2 separate regions of the Homo sapiens genome follow, and region 2 is linked to region 1. The links come from fine-mapping of genetic effects on gene expression. Tissue or cell type: whole blood. Region 1 holds a variant in brackets; the other region holds the start of a gene. All regions are shown on one strand. Distances are from middle to middle.

Region 1 (7,772 bases):
ATGTTGCTGCAAATAATAGGATTTCATTTTTTTGTGGCTGAATAGTATCCCATTGTGTTTATATATCATATTTTCGTTATTCATTTGTCCACTGACGGACAGTTAGGTTGATTCCATATCTTTGCTATTGTGAATAGTGCTGCAATAAACAGATGAGTGCAGGTATCTCCCTTTGATATACTGATTTCTTTTCCTTTGGATAAATACCCAGTAGTGGGATTGCTGGATTGTATAGTAGTTCTATTTTTAGTTTTTTGAGAATCTCCGTACTGTTTTCCATAGTGGCTCTACTATACTAATTTACATTCCCACCAGCAGTATTTAAGAGTTCCCTTTTCTTTTTCTTTTCTTGAGATGGAGTTTTTGCTCTGTTGCCCAGGCTGGAGTGCAGTGGCATGATCTCGGCTCACTGCAACCTCCGCCTCCTGGGTTCAAGTGATTCTCCTGCCTCAGCCTCCCGAGTAGCTGGATAGGTGCCACCACCACACCCAGCTAGTTTTTGTATTTTTAGTAGAGATGAGGTTTCACCATCTTGGCCAGGCTGGTCTCGAACTCTTGACCTCAGGTGATCCACCCGCCTCAGCCTCCCAAAGTGCTAGGATTACAGGCGTGGGCCACCGCACCTGGCCTAAGAGTTCCTTTTCTATACATCCTTGCCAGCATGTTATTTTTTGACTTTTTAATAATAGCCATTCTAACTGAGGTAAGATGATATCTTATTGTGGCTTTGATTTGCACTTTCCTGATGATTAGTGATGTTGAACATTTTTTCATATACCTGTTGGCCATTTATGTCTTCTTTTGGTGAATGTTTATTCATGTCCTTCGCCCACTTTTTAATAGGATTATTTGTTTTTCACTCTTTAGTCATTTGAGTTACTTGTATACTCTGGTTATTAGTCCCTTGTTGGATTAATAGTTTGCAGATATTTTCTCCCATTCAGGAGGTTATCTTTTCACTCTGTTGATTGTCTTCTTTGCTGTGCAGAAACTTTTTAGTTTAATATAGTCCCATTTGTCTATTTTTGTTTTTGTTACCTGTGCTTTTGAGATGTTAGCCATAAAATCTTTGTCTAGACCAATGTCCTAAAGTGTTTCCCTGTGTTTTCTTCTAGTAGCTTTATAGTTTTGGGTCTTATATTTAAGTCTTTAATCCCACCTTGAGTTGATTTTTTTATATGGTGAGAGATAGGAGTTCATTTTCATTTTATACTAATACCATGCTGTTTTGGTTGCCCAGCATTGCTTTGGCTATTTGGGCCCTTTTGTGGTTCCATATGAATTTTAGGATTGTGTTTTCTGTTTATGTGAAAAATAACATTGATATTTTGATAGGGATTGCACTGAATTTATAGATTGCTTTGGGCAGTATGCTCATTTTAATGAGATTAATCCTTCCAGTCCATAAGCATGGGTGTTTCCATTTGTGTCATCTTCAATTTCTTTCATCAGGGTTTTGTAGCTTTCCTTATAGAGGTCTTTCACCTCCTTGGTTAAATTTAGTCCTATTTTATTTTGTGTAGCTGTTGTAAATGGGATTGCCTTCTTGGTTTCTATCTCAGCTAGTTCATTATTAGTGTATAGAAAGGCTACTGATTTTTATATGTTGATTTTGTATCCTACAACTTTACCTAATTTATTGATCAGATCTAAGAGCTATTTTGTGGCATCTTTAGGTTTTTCTGGATATAAGATCATGTCATCTACAGAGAGGGATAATTTAACTTCTTCTTTTCTAATTTGGATGCCTCTTATTTCTTTTTCTTGCCTAATTGCTCTGGCTAGGACTTCCAGTACTATGTTGAATAGGAGTGGTGAAAGTGGGCATCCTTGTTTTTTTCCAGTTCTTAAAAGTAAGGCTTTTATATTTTCCCCATTCAGTATGATGTTAGCTACTCCATTCCTAATTTTAAAATCAGGTTAGCAGGATTAATCATAAGTTGAGTTTGCTTTTCCAGTTGAAAGGAAAAATAAGGCCCTGGGTATTTGATTACACATTAGTTACAGTACATAGTTTCTCTAATTTTTAGTACACCATTCTTGGTCAGTCTTTAGCCACTCTCTTTCTGTGCTTTATCATGCTGCTAAACATACATACTGATGGCCAGGCGTGGTAGCTCACGCCTGTAATCCCAGCACTTTGGGAGGCCAAGGCGAGCGGATCACAAGGTCTGGTGTTCGAGACCAGCCTGGCCAACATGGTGAAACCCCGTCTCTACCAAATATACAAAAATTAGCCAGGCATGGTGGTGCATGCTTGTAGTCCCAGCTACTCGGGAGGCTGAGGCAGAAGAATCGCTTGAACCCGGGAGGCAGAGGTTGCAGTGAGCCAAGATTGCGCCATTGCACTCCAGCCTGGGAGACAGAGCAAAACTCTGTCTAAAAAAAAAAAAAAAAGAAAAAATACAGACTGATTTCTTTAATACTTCAACTTTTGTATGGATTTTCAACTCAAGAGGAAATATACAAAATTCTTAATAGAATTTATTTAGACTTTTGGGGTATATCATTTTTCCATATATATACCCAATGAATTAGTGTTCTTTCCTCATTGCATTTTGCTCTGGGTGGTGGTTTTCAGTCTTAGGAAGGGGAAAGTTGGGGAAGGTCACCAAAAACTCCATCCATACTTTTAAAATTTCTGTCAGAATGGGCTCCTGCTCTTTTTGGTCCTTCTGGGAACAGAGAGTGTATGAGATGCCTCTCACAGGGCTCTGTTTCCTATGATTGTCCTCACCGGACCTTACACTCAGTCACCTCTTTGGGCTTTGGACTCTTCTAGTATCTTAGGCTCTTTCTAGCTCTACAATTCTGAATCTGCTCAGTCCACCATAAATTTTACTATGTAATACTTGCCCACAGAGACAAGATAATGTATTAAATTTTAGCAAAATGAATTTCATTGAATAGCACACATTGAGAGGCTGTTGAGCAGATGCCCCTTCTGTACTTCCACATTTCATCATAGTCTTACGTTCCTCTGCTTCATACCAATATTGTAAGCAGTGTCTAGGGTCTGAATGGGGCTCTCTGTGGTATCCATGATGACCTTTTATTTTCTCCACTAAGTGGGACTATATGCAGAGTGGGGTGTAGCTGGATTATGACAGAGAAAAGCAAAGGTCCATTTCTCCTAAAGATCCAAGGATCCAGGTGGCTTATGTGCCGGGTGCTGTTGGCAGAGTCCCATCATTCACCAGCATACATGGGAAGGTTTTGTGCATTAGCATCTCCTTAGGTAACTTTCAGAAAAAAGATCATGAGGCCAGGCATGGCGGCCCACGCCTGTAATCCCCCGCACTTTGGGAGCCTGAGGCGGGCGGATTGCTTGAGCTCAGGTGTTCGAGACCATCCTGGGCAACATGGAAAAACCCCGTCTCTACAGAAAACACAAAAATTGGCCGGGTGTGGTGGTGAGTGCCTGTGGTGTCAGCTACTCTGGAGGTTGAGGCGGGAGGATCACTGGAGCCTGGGAGGTGGAGGTTGCAGTGAGCCGAGATTGTGCCACTGCACTCCAGCCTGGGCCACAGAGCGAGACCCTGTCTTAAAAAGAAAGAAAGAAAGAAAGAAAGAAAATAAAAAGATTATGAGAGGGTAATCCTCGAAGCACAGTTGGCAAAAGCCAGCAGCAAAGATGTGTATGTGAGGGGCACAATTCACTGCCTGTTCTTCCCTTCTAGTTTTCAGGACTCTACATCCTGTCCTTCACTGTCATCATGGTGGGGTTTATCCTGTACTGCTCCACCCCTACTCGCACGGCCGAGCCGGCTGAAAGCAGCGTGCCTCCAGTCACCAGCATTGGGATTGACAACCTGGGGCTGAAGCTGGAGGAGAACCTCCAGGAGACCCACTCTGCTGTCTTGTAGCTGGAGAAGATGGCGCACCCATCCCCCACCAGGATAAAGCAGAGCCTGCTGCCTGCTGAGGGGACACTTGGGGAAATAGCAGACTCAGAATGGACACTCTACAACCCTGGGTTGGATCCAGTGGTTAGGTTTTAGAAAGGAACACTGAACAAAGTTCAAAAGTAGAAATACCAAAATAGAGCAGAAACCAAGCTAAGAGTGTGTTTCTGTGTTTGAGGACCAATATCTGTTCGTGTTGAGGAGATGAGGTGCAGACTCCACACTGGGGTCTTAGAGGCACCAGTGGGAAAGCAGGACTGGGGAGAGATCCAGGACTGAGCCAGCCTCAGGCCAGGGCGGGAAAGCAGGCTGTCCAGGCTGGGCTTGGTGGTCAGGAACAGGGGCAGCTCACGGTGGCTCTGGAGTACGTTTCCTCTGTCAGATGCTTCAAGGTTTTTTTTTTTTTTTTTTTTTGCTGAGGCAGTTATTGTCCACAGGCCTTTGGGTACAGATGAGGCCTTGGGGCTGACTGCATGTGGCAGAAAACGGGTGGGTCAGCCCTTGAAAAGTC[T/C]TGAGATATAAGTGTGAGTACTATACAAGCATTAAACTGGAGTGCAGTAAACCTAGGAACCTTCCCACAATTGTTTTTTTGTTTGTTTGAGATGCAGAGTCTAGAGTGCAGTGGTGCAAGCTCAGCTTACTGTAACCTCTGCCTCCTGGATTCAAGTGTTAGTAGCTGGGATTACAAAAGCATGTGGCCCCACGCCCAGCTAAGTTTTGTATTTTTAGTAGACATGGGGTTTCACCATGTTGCCCAGGCTGGTCTTGACCTCCCGACCTCAAGTGATCTGCCTGCCCCGACCTCCCAAAGTGCTGGGATTACAGGCTTGAGCCACCGTGCCAGGCCTGTTTTGTTTGTTTTTGTAGAGAGATGGGGTTTCGCCATGTTGCCCAGGCTAATCTCAAATTCCTGAGCTAAAGCGATCTGCCCACCTCGGCCTCCGAAAGTGCTAGGATTACAGATGTGAACCACTGTGCCTGGCCTGTTTGTTTGTTTGTTTAAAACATTTCTCCATCACTCATTCCAGGTCCCAGAGCAAACTCTCTCTGCTCTCGGAGCCTGTGACACTGGCTATGTGCTCCACAGTTTCAGTCCCAGGTCATACTCTCCAACAGTTTTCAGAGCTCCATATATATGTAGATGCCATCCTTTCTAAAAACTTCTCACGACCTCCTGGAATATTCCTATTGATCTCATTTTATTTAGCATCAGCTCAAGAAACTAAGTCTTAGTGCACAGTATCACAACAAAGAAAAAGCTTTGTTTTTATAACTGGTAAAAACAAGAAAAGATTCTCATCAAAATGAAAATATAAAATTAATCATTTCTCACCAAAGAGTATGCCTGGGAGCCTCCAGCTGTTAAAAGACAATGCTATTACTACTTCTTATCAAAAATCTGTAATGCCCTGTGATTTTTATGATACTTCTTCAATACAAAGTGTTAATATGTGTCATCAGTATAATAACAACCAACAAAATGCCACTTTCAGAAAACTGTATGTAAATTTTTTGTAACAATGTAAAAAAGAAATGGGGAGTAAGTGTTCACATCATTAAAAGGCTTTGAATTCATGGAAATACATCAACTGTGTGGTTTCTTTGATTAACCATTTCCCCTTGTGGATTTTTTTTCCAGTAAAGCCGTCCTTCAAAACCCTTGTGGATTTTTTTTTCTTCTTTTTTTTTTGTTTGAGTCTTGTCCTGTCGCCCAGGCTGGAGTGCAGTGGTGCCATCTCAGCTCACTGCAACCTCTGCCTCCTGGGTTCAGCAATTCTCCTACCTGGACTACAGGTATGCACCACCATGCCCAGCTAATTTTTGTATTTTTAGTAGGGTATCACCATGTTGGCCAGGCTGGTCTCGAACTGACCTCAAGTGATCCACCCACCTCAGCCTCCCAAAGTGCTGGGATTACAGGCATGAGCCACCACGCCTGGCCTCCTTGTGGATTTTGAATGACTTGACATATTCAGTATTTCTTCATATTCAATTTTTCAGAGTCGTATCCTCTGTGGGGTGAGGCAAGCCTGTCTATTTGGGGACTATGCTGGGATTCCAGGGAATTCAGAGCAAGCTTACCGATCATTTGCAGGAATAAACATTTTCCAATTCTGAATTACCACAATGAGTTTTTTTTTACTTTTTTGAGTGAAGTAACCTTTCATTTTCTGCAACCAATTAAAACTGCCTTTTCAATCGATGTTTGGTTTTTGCTCCCTAACATTAACAACTATGAGAGTGGGAAAGGTTATGTTAAAATGTTTGGCTCTTTTAGGAAGACTTTCAGTTTGATTAGCACACTGATGGTTTAGTTTTAAATTTGTGCTATTTTGCTCATTGTTTCATTTTATTTACACCAGCGACAGCCGCAGTCAGAACTGCAGTTGCTGATCCTGCAAGGTTGCTGTTTGGTGAGCAGGGTCATTCACAAAGTCTTTGGTTACATATTTGGGTGTTTAGGATACATATACACCAGGATGGACTTTAGAAAAAGGAAGTAGGCCGGGTGCACTGGCTCAAGCCTGTAATCCCAGCACTGTTACGTGCAGGTCTTTGTTCTTAGAGCTCCCAAGATGGTGGTGGGCCGCTCCCAAGATGGGGCAGGCCACACCCAAGATGGCAGCAAGCCTTTTGTTCTCTGACCTGGGGTTCTTGGCCTCAGTGGATTCCAAGGAATGGAACCTTGGGCCATGTGGTGAGTGTTAAGCTCTATTAGAAGCCGTGGGTCACGGAAGAGAACCGTGGAAACCAGCAACTAGTGTTCAGTTCGATTAGGATGAACCTGGGCACTTAGTCATGCAGAAACAATGGCGAGCCTTTAGCCTGATCAGGAGCAGCAATGGGCGCCTCGCTGGATCAGGAGCACAGTGGACACTCTGCCAGATCCGGAGGGGTGGAAGTCAATGGTGGGTCTGCAACGGCAGCAAACAGCAGTGGTGGACGGCTCGGCTGGAGCCGTAACAAACACGGACAAGAAGTGTAGCTGCAAGATTTAATAGAGTGAAAACAGAGCTCCCATACAATGGGAGGGGACCCAAAGGGGGTTGCCCGATCCGGTTCGAATGCCTGGGTTTATATCCCGATCATTGTCCCCTCCCCATGCTCTCAGGCGATATATGATTTGACTATTTCTTTACTGCCTACTTTTAGCCTAATTTGTATTTTAGTGAGCCCTTTTTACTACCTGATTGGGTGTGAGCTGAGTTACTAGCCCTGTGTTTAAAGGTGGGTGAGGTCACCTTCCCCAGCTAGGCTTAGGAATTCTTAGCCAAGGAAATCCAGCTAGTCCTGTTTCTCAGCACTTTGGGAAACTGAGGCAGGCAGATTACTTGAGGCTACGAGTTGGAGACCAGCTGGGTTAACATGCTGAAACCCTGTCTCTAAAAAACACAAAAATTAGCTGGGTGTGGTGGCATGCACCTGTAGTCCCATCTGCTCTGGAGGCCGAAGCTGGAGGATCACTTGAGCCTGGGAGGTCCAGGCCCCAGTGAGCCGAGATCATGCCACTGCACTCCAGCCTGGGCAACAGACCCTGTCTCAAAAAAAAAAAAAAAAAGAAAAAGAAAAAGGAGATAGCATTTTTTGAACCCTAGGAAACCATCCAAATCTCAACTTATCTGTGTTGACTTTTTTTGTTTTTTGAGAGATGCAGTGTCCTGATCTTGGCTCACTGCAACCTCTGCCTCCCGGGTTCAAACGATTCTCCTGTCTCAGGCTCCCAAGAAGCTGAGACTACAGGGATGCGCCACCACGTCTGGCTAAGTTTTTTATTTTTAGTAGAGACGGGGTTTCGCCATATTGGTCAGGCTGGGCTCAAACTCGTGACCTCGTGATCTGCCCACCTCGGCCTCCCAAAGTGCTGGG
Region 2 (7,772 bases), 65 kb before region 1:
GTATTTATACAAAGGCATACATTTGACATAACAGGGACTCTATTGGCGGGCGTGGTGGCTCACACCTGTAATCCTGGCACTTTGGGAGGCCGAGGCAGGTGAATCACGAGGTCAGGAGATCGAGACCAACCTGGCCAACATGGTGAACTCCTGTCTCTACTAAAAATACAAGAATTAGCCGGGCATGGGCACATGCCTGTAGTCCCATCTACTTGGGGGGCTGAGGCAGGAGAATTGCTTGAACCAGGGAGTTGGAGGTTGCAGTGAGCTGAGATCGCACCACTGTATTCCAGCCTGACAAAGAGAGACTCCGTCTGAAAAAAAAAATAAAAGCGGGGGGACTCTATTATACGTGCCGGAGTTTTTTTTTGGGGGGTGTGTGTGTGTGTCTGTGTGTGTGTTTTAAAAGACTGTCTCACTATGTAGCCCCAGGCTGGTCTGAAACTCCTGAGCTCAAACAATCCTCCTGCCTCAGCCTCCTGAAGTGTTGGGATTACAGGTGTGAGCTACTGTGCCTGGCCCCCCACCCTCTTTTAAAGTTACTGGTGTTGACGTGTATCTTCTATTTTTCTTCATACTCACATAATCAAACATAGTAGTCCTCCCTTATGTTTCAAGACCCCCGGTGGGTGTCTGAAACTGCAGAGAGTATTTAGCCCTATACAGTATATACTTTTTTCCTACACATACCTATAATAAAATTTAATTTATAAAATTGGCACAGTAAGAAATTAACAACTCATAATAAAATAGAACAATTATAACAATATACTGTAATAAAAGTTATGTGAATGTGGTCTCTCTCTCAAAATATCTTACTATACTCTAGTCACCTATTTTCAGAGGGTAATTGGCTGTGGTAACTAAAACCGTGGAAATCAAAACCTCAGGTAAGGAGGTGACTACTGTATATATTGCAAATAAAAAATCAAATTTGGTTAAGGAGAGACTTTATTTGTAGGGATTATTGCAAATGGGGATGGGTGGGGACTGTGGGGAAGGGTTCCTGCAGTAGGAGGGGGCCTATTCCCTACTGGTGGGAAGTGGAATGAAAAGGTGGCTCTCCACTGGATAATAGATTAGAGAATGTTTCACCCTGAGGCCAACTTCTCAGGAGGGGCTATTAAGGAGGGGTTACCTGCGGCTCAGGGTCAGGGTGGGTGAAAGTTCAGAGGTATGAGGGAGGAAGAGAAATTCAACCAAAATCTTTGATTAAAAAAAAAAAGGTGGGAGGCTTCTTTTCTTTTCTCTTTCTTTCTTTCTCTCTTTCTCTCTTTCTTTCTTTTTTTTTTGAGACAGTCTTACTCTGTTGCCCAGGCTGAAGTGCAGTGGCACGATTTTGGCTCACTGCAACCTCTGCCTCCCGGGTTCAAGTGGTTCTCCTGCCTTAGCCTCCCAAGTAGCTGGGATTACAGGCACACACCAAAACGCCGGGCTAATTTTTGTAGTTTTAGTAGAGACGGGATTTCGCCATGTTGGTCAGGCTGGTCTCGAACTCCTGACCTCAGGAGTAATCCGCCCGCTTCGGTCTCCCAAAGCACTGGGATTACAGGCGTCAGCCACCGCGCCCGGCCTAGGAAGGTTTCTTAATTGTCATTACTTTCCAGGAGCACAGGGCTCAGGTAGAATTCAACGTTGTCAATATGCAGGGTTAAATGAGTTGTTTACTTTACAAAAGTGACATCTTAAATGTGCTTCTAATGTCCTCTTGTTTCATAATATGCTTGTATTATAATACTTAATTAGTCTCTACGGATGACCACGTTCTTAGTTTCAAAGGTTTTTTTGAGGTTCCTGCAGCTGCTAAACTTGGGGTTCCTGAAGTAATATTTCATTTTCGAAAGCTGTTTTTTTTCTTAGACTCCTCTTACAGAATTGCCAGCTCGTCTGCACAGCCTGTCTATTTGAACCTACGTTTATTTTGACCCACCCCAACCCCCAAAGCAGGTGGCCAGGAAAAAATAAAAGGTCCCAACACCTTTTCTTTTGTTTTCTGGATCTCCTCCTTTCCGGAAGCAGGGGGTCAGTGACAGGAACTTTTCGACCCCAGCTTAGTGTCTCTTAATCCCTCTTTAGCCCGTGGAAGCCTCGGAAGGCGTGGCCAGGGCAGGGCATCCAAGCCGAGCGCCGGGGGTTGGCACCGTCTCTCTCCCTGGCACGGCGGAGACAACTGAATACTGAAAGACAAAACCAACACACCGCGAGGAATGAGCCACGCCTCCATCCACGCCACAAAGGCACGTTTCCAAGATCTTTTTAGGATCTTACCCATGTTTTGCAGGGAAAAGCGACACAGACCTGAAGCGCCTTCAGGTTTTTTTTTTTTTTTTTTTTTTTTTTAAGACGACGTCTCCCTCTGTTGCCCAGGCTGGAGTGCAAAGGCGCGATCTTGGCTCACAACCGCCGCCTCCTGGGTTCAAGCGATTCTCCTGCCTCAGCCTCTCGAGTAGCTGGGACTACAGGCACCCGTCACCACGCCCGGCTAATTTTTGTATTTTTAGTAGAGACGGGGTTTCACCATATTTCCCAGTCTGGTCTCGAACTCCTGACCTCAGGTGATCCACCCGTCTCGGCCTCCCAAAGCGTTGGGATTACAGGTGTGAGCCAACGCGCCCTGCCAGCCTTCAGTTATTTTAATGAAGCGATTTTGTACAAATCAGCCAGAGGGAGGGAGAGTGGGAGGGAAGAGGAGGGGTCAGCCAGTCCTTCCAGTTAGGAGAGTCCCGGCTCACTCACTGCTTCTAACTCACTGCTCACTCACCGCTTCTTAGCTTAGGAATCACCTACAATAACCTCGTGTCACTGTATCTTGTGATTTCAAACAAGGAACCCTAAAAACCTGAAGGCACACTGGGTGCCGCTCAACAATAAGGCTCGGCTGCCAAGACGAAAAAAAAATTGCCCTTTCTCCTCCTGCCACCCTGGAGGTGCCAGGTTGTAATCTGCAAATGTATTGTCTGGCCCTTAGGGCTTGACAGTTAATGATTGGTCGCTGAAGGAGCCGAGCGGAGGAGCGAGAGGGACGCGAGCAAGCGAGCGAGGGAGGGAGCGCAGGGCCAGAGCGGAGCCCCAGCCGGCCGCACAGGCACCGCCTCCCGTCTTCCGGGACCCGGCACTTCGGGGGTTTTGGGCGCCGGAGACGCGCAAGGGCGCCGATGGAGGCAGACTCGCCAGCGGGCCCCGGCGCCCCAGAGCCCCTCGCGGAGGGAGCGGCGGCCGAGTTCTCCAGCCTGCTGCGCAGGATAAAAGGCAAACTCTTCACCTGGTGAGTGGAAGGGGCGTGCTGCAGCTCCGCTGGGGCGTGGGGGCGGCTGCGGGCCCTGCGCGCACGTGGACAAGGAGCACACTCTCTGAGGCCCCCAGCAGGGAGGCAGAGGTGGCGGCCGCACGGACTTCGGTTCGGGGCTCAACACGCACACCAGGTATGGTGCGCTTCACCTGGCGTCGGGAAGCACTTGGTGCGTCTCCCTCGGCTCCCGTTTCGAAATCGTGGCGATGTATTTTGGAGGATTTGGGGGGAAACCCACCCTGTGGCACTATTAGGTCGGTCCTCTGGGGCGTTCCGCGGTGGAGGGACGAGGTCCCCGGGGATGCTGTGAAGGAGGAGTGCCCACCTCGGGCTGGGCAGGTGGGTGAGCGCCACTTCCTGGCGCCGGCGCCCTCATTCCATCTGCTGCCGAGCCAGCCAGACTGGGCGCGGTGATTCAAGAGTTGACCGAAGTGAGAAATCCTGGTTAAGTTTTGTGCTGCTGCCGGGTGGGAGACCAGAGCCGGCTCTCTCTTCCTGGGCCTGAGCGAGGTGATATAGCCACCCCCAGGGCTGGGGTCCAGGGAAGCCTGTTTGTGGTATCACTATGCTCTGTGCGAAGTAGGGACAAATGTTTTTAAGGAGTGGGCAGCGACTCTAGAAAGCGTTTCTGTGGTTGCTGGAGGACTTGCACTCTGGAAATGAGAGAACCCAGGACCTAAATAGTGAAAGACATTTATTGGGCACTCGCTCTGTGTCAGGTACTGTGCATAACAATTTATATGGATAATATCAGCTAATCCTCACCACTTTAGGAGATGGTACTATTGTTATATCCACTTTGCCGCTGGAGAAACAAAGAAGGCTAAGCAATTTGCCCAAGGCCACAAGATGATCTTTAAGGGGTGATGCGTTCAAGCCGTAGTCTAAACAGCGTTGGCCACTGACAACTCATGAAACAGATATTTGATTTTTTTTTCATATTAACAAAGCGAATTTCCCTTTAACGATTGTGAAAGATAGTCCTGAAAAGCCATACCATTTTAAAAACGAGATCGATAAAGGTGTAAGCATTTTTTATCATATAAATAGTTTGAAATTGATGCATGTGTTTAAAGGGGAAAGTTGGCCGAAAACCACCTTGTAGCATCCAGTTGTGTATGTCCTGATACATTTGTTAAAAGTTCTCAGCTGGGAGGCAATTCAGTGTAATGGCTAAGGGCACTCACATTCTGGACTCAAATCCTGGCTGGGTGACCTTGGACAAGTCAGTTCTCTGTGCTCCAGTTCCCTCCCTTCCCTCCCTCTCTCCCTCTCTCCTTCCTTCCTTCCCTCTCTCTCCTTCCTTCCTTCCTTCCCTCTCTCCTTCCTTCGTTCCCTCTCTCCTTCCTTCCGTCCTTCCTTCCACAAGTCAGTTATCTGTACTCCAGTTCCCTCCCTCCCTCCCTCCCTCCTTCTTTGTTCCTTCCTTCCGTCCGTGTCCGTCCGTCTTGGACAAGTCACTTAACTTCTCTGTGCTCCAGTCTCCCTCCCTCCCTTCCTTCCTCCCTTCCTTCCTCCCTTCCTTCTGCTGGGTGACCTTGGACAAATCAGTTCTCTGTGCTCCAGTTCCCTCCCTCCGCCCCTCCCTTCCTTCCTGCCTTCCTTCCTTCCTGGACAAGTCACTTCTCTGTGCTTCAGTCTCCCTCCCTCCCTTCCTTCTTGGACAAGTCACTTAACTTCTCTGTGCTCCAGTCTCCTTCCCTCTTTTCCCTCCCTCCCTCCCTCCCTTCCTTCCTTCCCTCCCTCCCTTCCTTCCTTCCTGCCTTCCTTCCTTCCTTCCTGGACAAGTCACTTCTCTGTGCTCCGGTCTCCCTCTCTCCCTCCCTCCCTCCCTTCTTGGACAAGTCACTTAACTTCTCTGTGCTCCAGTCTCCCTCCCTCTTTTCTCTCCCTCCCTCCCTCCCTCCTGACGGAGTCTCATTCTGTCACCTTCCTTCCTGACAGAGTCTCATTCTGTCACCCAGGCCTGAGTGCAGAGGCTCTATCTCAGCTAACTGCAACCTCAACCTTTCGGGTTCAAGCGATTATCCTGCCTCAGCCTCCGAAGTAGCTGGGATTACAGATGTATACCACCACGCCAGGCTAATTTTTTCATGCTTTTAGTAGAGATGGGGTTTCCCCATGTTGACCAGGCTGGTCTTGAACTCCTGACCTCAAGTGATGCACCCACCTCCGCCTCCCAAAGTAGTGGGATTACAGGCGTGAGCCACCGCGCCCAGCCTGTGCTCCAGTTTTCTTATTTGTAAAATGGAGATAATAACAGTACCTACCTTGTAGTGCTGTTACAAGGTTACTATGCAGGAAAGGGCAGACAGAGCCTGGCTCCTTTCAGTGCTCTATATGGGTTAGTTGTCACCATTAGCTCTCTATTCTTGGGTGATGGGAACATTTGGTGATTGCTTCAGGAGATGCCAGTGGCCTTGAGGCTGGGGCAGATGATATGGCAAGATGTATGTTTAACAAGATGTGATAAGAATTAACAATGATTTTCTTTTCTTTTCTTCTTCTTCTTTTTTTTTTTTTTTTTTGAGACAGAGTTTTGCTCTTGTTGCCCAGGCTGGAGTGCAGCGGCACGATCATGGCTCACTGCAACCTCTGCCTCCCGGGTTCAAGTGATTCTCCTGCCTCAGCCTCCTGAGTAGCTAGGATTACAGGCGCCTGCCACCATGCCCGGCTAATTTTTAATACAGACAGGATTTCACCATGTTGGCCAGGCTGGTCTTGAGCTCCTGACCTCAGGTGATCCATCTACCTCAGCCTCCAAAAGTGCTGGGATTATAAGCGTAAGCCACCGTGCCTGGCCTGATTTTTTTTTTTCTCTCCTAATGTTCTGATACTTTTGGAATCCGGGTATGTTTTATAATCAGTCTAGTAGCCTCCTAAATATGAGATTTCTTTTGTCTATGAATGTCCTTTTTATGTATCTCTTTGAGGGCTTTTTCCTTTCTTGTGGAATAGCAGTTATGGGCATTTTTTTTTTTTAGACAGAGTTTCACTGTTGTTGCCCAGGCTGGAGTTCAATGGCGCGATCTCGGCTCACCGCAACCTCCGCCTCCCGGGTTCAAGCTCTTCTTCTACCTCAGCCTGCCAAGTAGCTGGGATTACAGGCATGCACCACCACACCTGGCTAATTTTGTATTTTTTGTAGAGATGGGGCTTCTCCATGTTGGTCAGGCTGTTCTCGAACTCCCAACCTCAGGTGATCCGCCCGCCTCGGCCTCCCAAAGTGCTGGGATTACAGGTGTGAGCCACACGCCTGGCCATGGACGAAGTTCTTTAACAGCAAAAATGGTGTCTTTTTCTTTTTTATATCTACCACAACCCTTAGCACATGAATGAATGAATGAGTGAATGACTGAGGGATGACAAAGGTTCACAAGTCTTCCTTTCCATTCTGCCTCCCTCCCTGAACTCTTCCCTTTATTGGTCTTTATTCCAAGGGTCTTGGGCTGAGCTTCTTGTTTGGTTGGCTGGGCTCTTTTGTTAATTAAAGTTTCCATTCCTACCTCTGGCAGCCATCCAAGCACTTGGATTTTGGATTGCAGTTTCTCTTTATCAGACCCAGCAATCAGAAAAGAGTGGTTTACCAGATATCCAGTACTCCTAATACTCAATATTTTAAGCTTTGTTGTCAAAACTCATGTCCCAAGTTTGAGTAGCTTTGTGAATCCCCACCTGTGGCCAGGGAACCAAGGGTGGGAGAGTGTAGAAAGAGGTTGGTGAATGGATATGATGTGTTATCACCATATGGGCAAGATACAGAGAGAGATTTATAACCACATAGCTCATTTCTATTCCTTTTACCAAAAAGGGGCAAGAAGAGGCTTTTTGGGCAACTGGGTACTAAATACAGGGAGAAGATTGGGGCATAGAGCTTGTTATGTTTTCATTATGAGGAGGATATGTTCTAAGTGACCCCAGCTCTTAATATACCTGCCCCCATAGGGTACAGACAACTTTTCTCTATGATTAGGAATATCAGATCACTCATTCAATAAAAGTTTATTGAACACTTACCATGTGCCAGACATTCATGATAATGAGAACCATATATTCCTTAGTGGAGTGTGTAATTTTGGCTTTTGTGATTTATTACTGTCAACTCAAGTGAAAAATATTGTGATAGAAGACCATAGACTTCCAGGAGTATCTGAGAATACTTCTTATTTAATTGTTTATTATTATTATTATCATCATTTTTTGAGACAGGCTCTCACTCTGTTGGCCAGGCTGGAGTGCAGTGGCTGATCATGGCTTACTGCAGCCTCGACCTCCGTGGCTCAAGTGATCCTCCCACCTCAGCCTCCTGAGTGGCTGGGACTATGGCATGCACTGCCACGCACTACTAGTTTTTTTTTTTTTTCCGTAGAGACAGGGTTTCACCATGTTGCCCAGGCTGGTCTCAAACTCTTTGGCTCAAGTGATCCACCTGCCTTGGCTTTCCAAAATGTTGGGATTACAAGAGTGGCCCACTGCACCTGGT

The links. PIP is the estimated chance that this variant, and not a neighbour inherited with it, causes the effect.
Region 2: it holds the start of SLC35F2, and the variant in region 1 is fine-mapped to the expression of SLC35F2 in whole blood (INTERVAL, PIP above 0.99). The same link has a PIP of 0.9 or more in fibroblasts and lymphoblastoid cells.

Annotation. Positions count from the first base shown.
Region 1 is chr11:107,788,709-107,796,480 of GRCh38, reverse strand. SLC35F2 (solute carrier family 35 member F2) reads left to right here. Exons shown (of 8, transcript NM_017515.5): 8 at 3,681-5,490. The coding sequence ends at 3,866. Among named protein-coding and RNA genes, the nearest start is that of SLC35F2, 66 kb to the left of the region's middle. RefSeq lists a silencer at 5,697-5,906. The variant T/C (reference allele first, on the strand shown) is at 4,417.
Region 2 is chr11:107,854,151-107,861,922 of GRCh38, reverse strand. It overlaps SLC35F2 (solute carrier family 35 member F2), which reads left to right and starts at 3,136. Exons shown (of 8, transcript NM_017515.5): 1 at 3,136-3,265. The coding sequence starts at 3,156. LOC124902746 (a long non-coding RNA gene) reads right to left here and starts at 2,693. Exons shown (of 2, transcript XR_007062876.1): 1 at 2,269-2,693; 2 at 934-2,177. RefSeq lists a silencer at 3,011-3,320 and an enhancer at 3,541-3,610.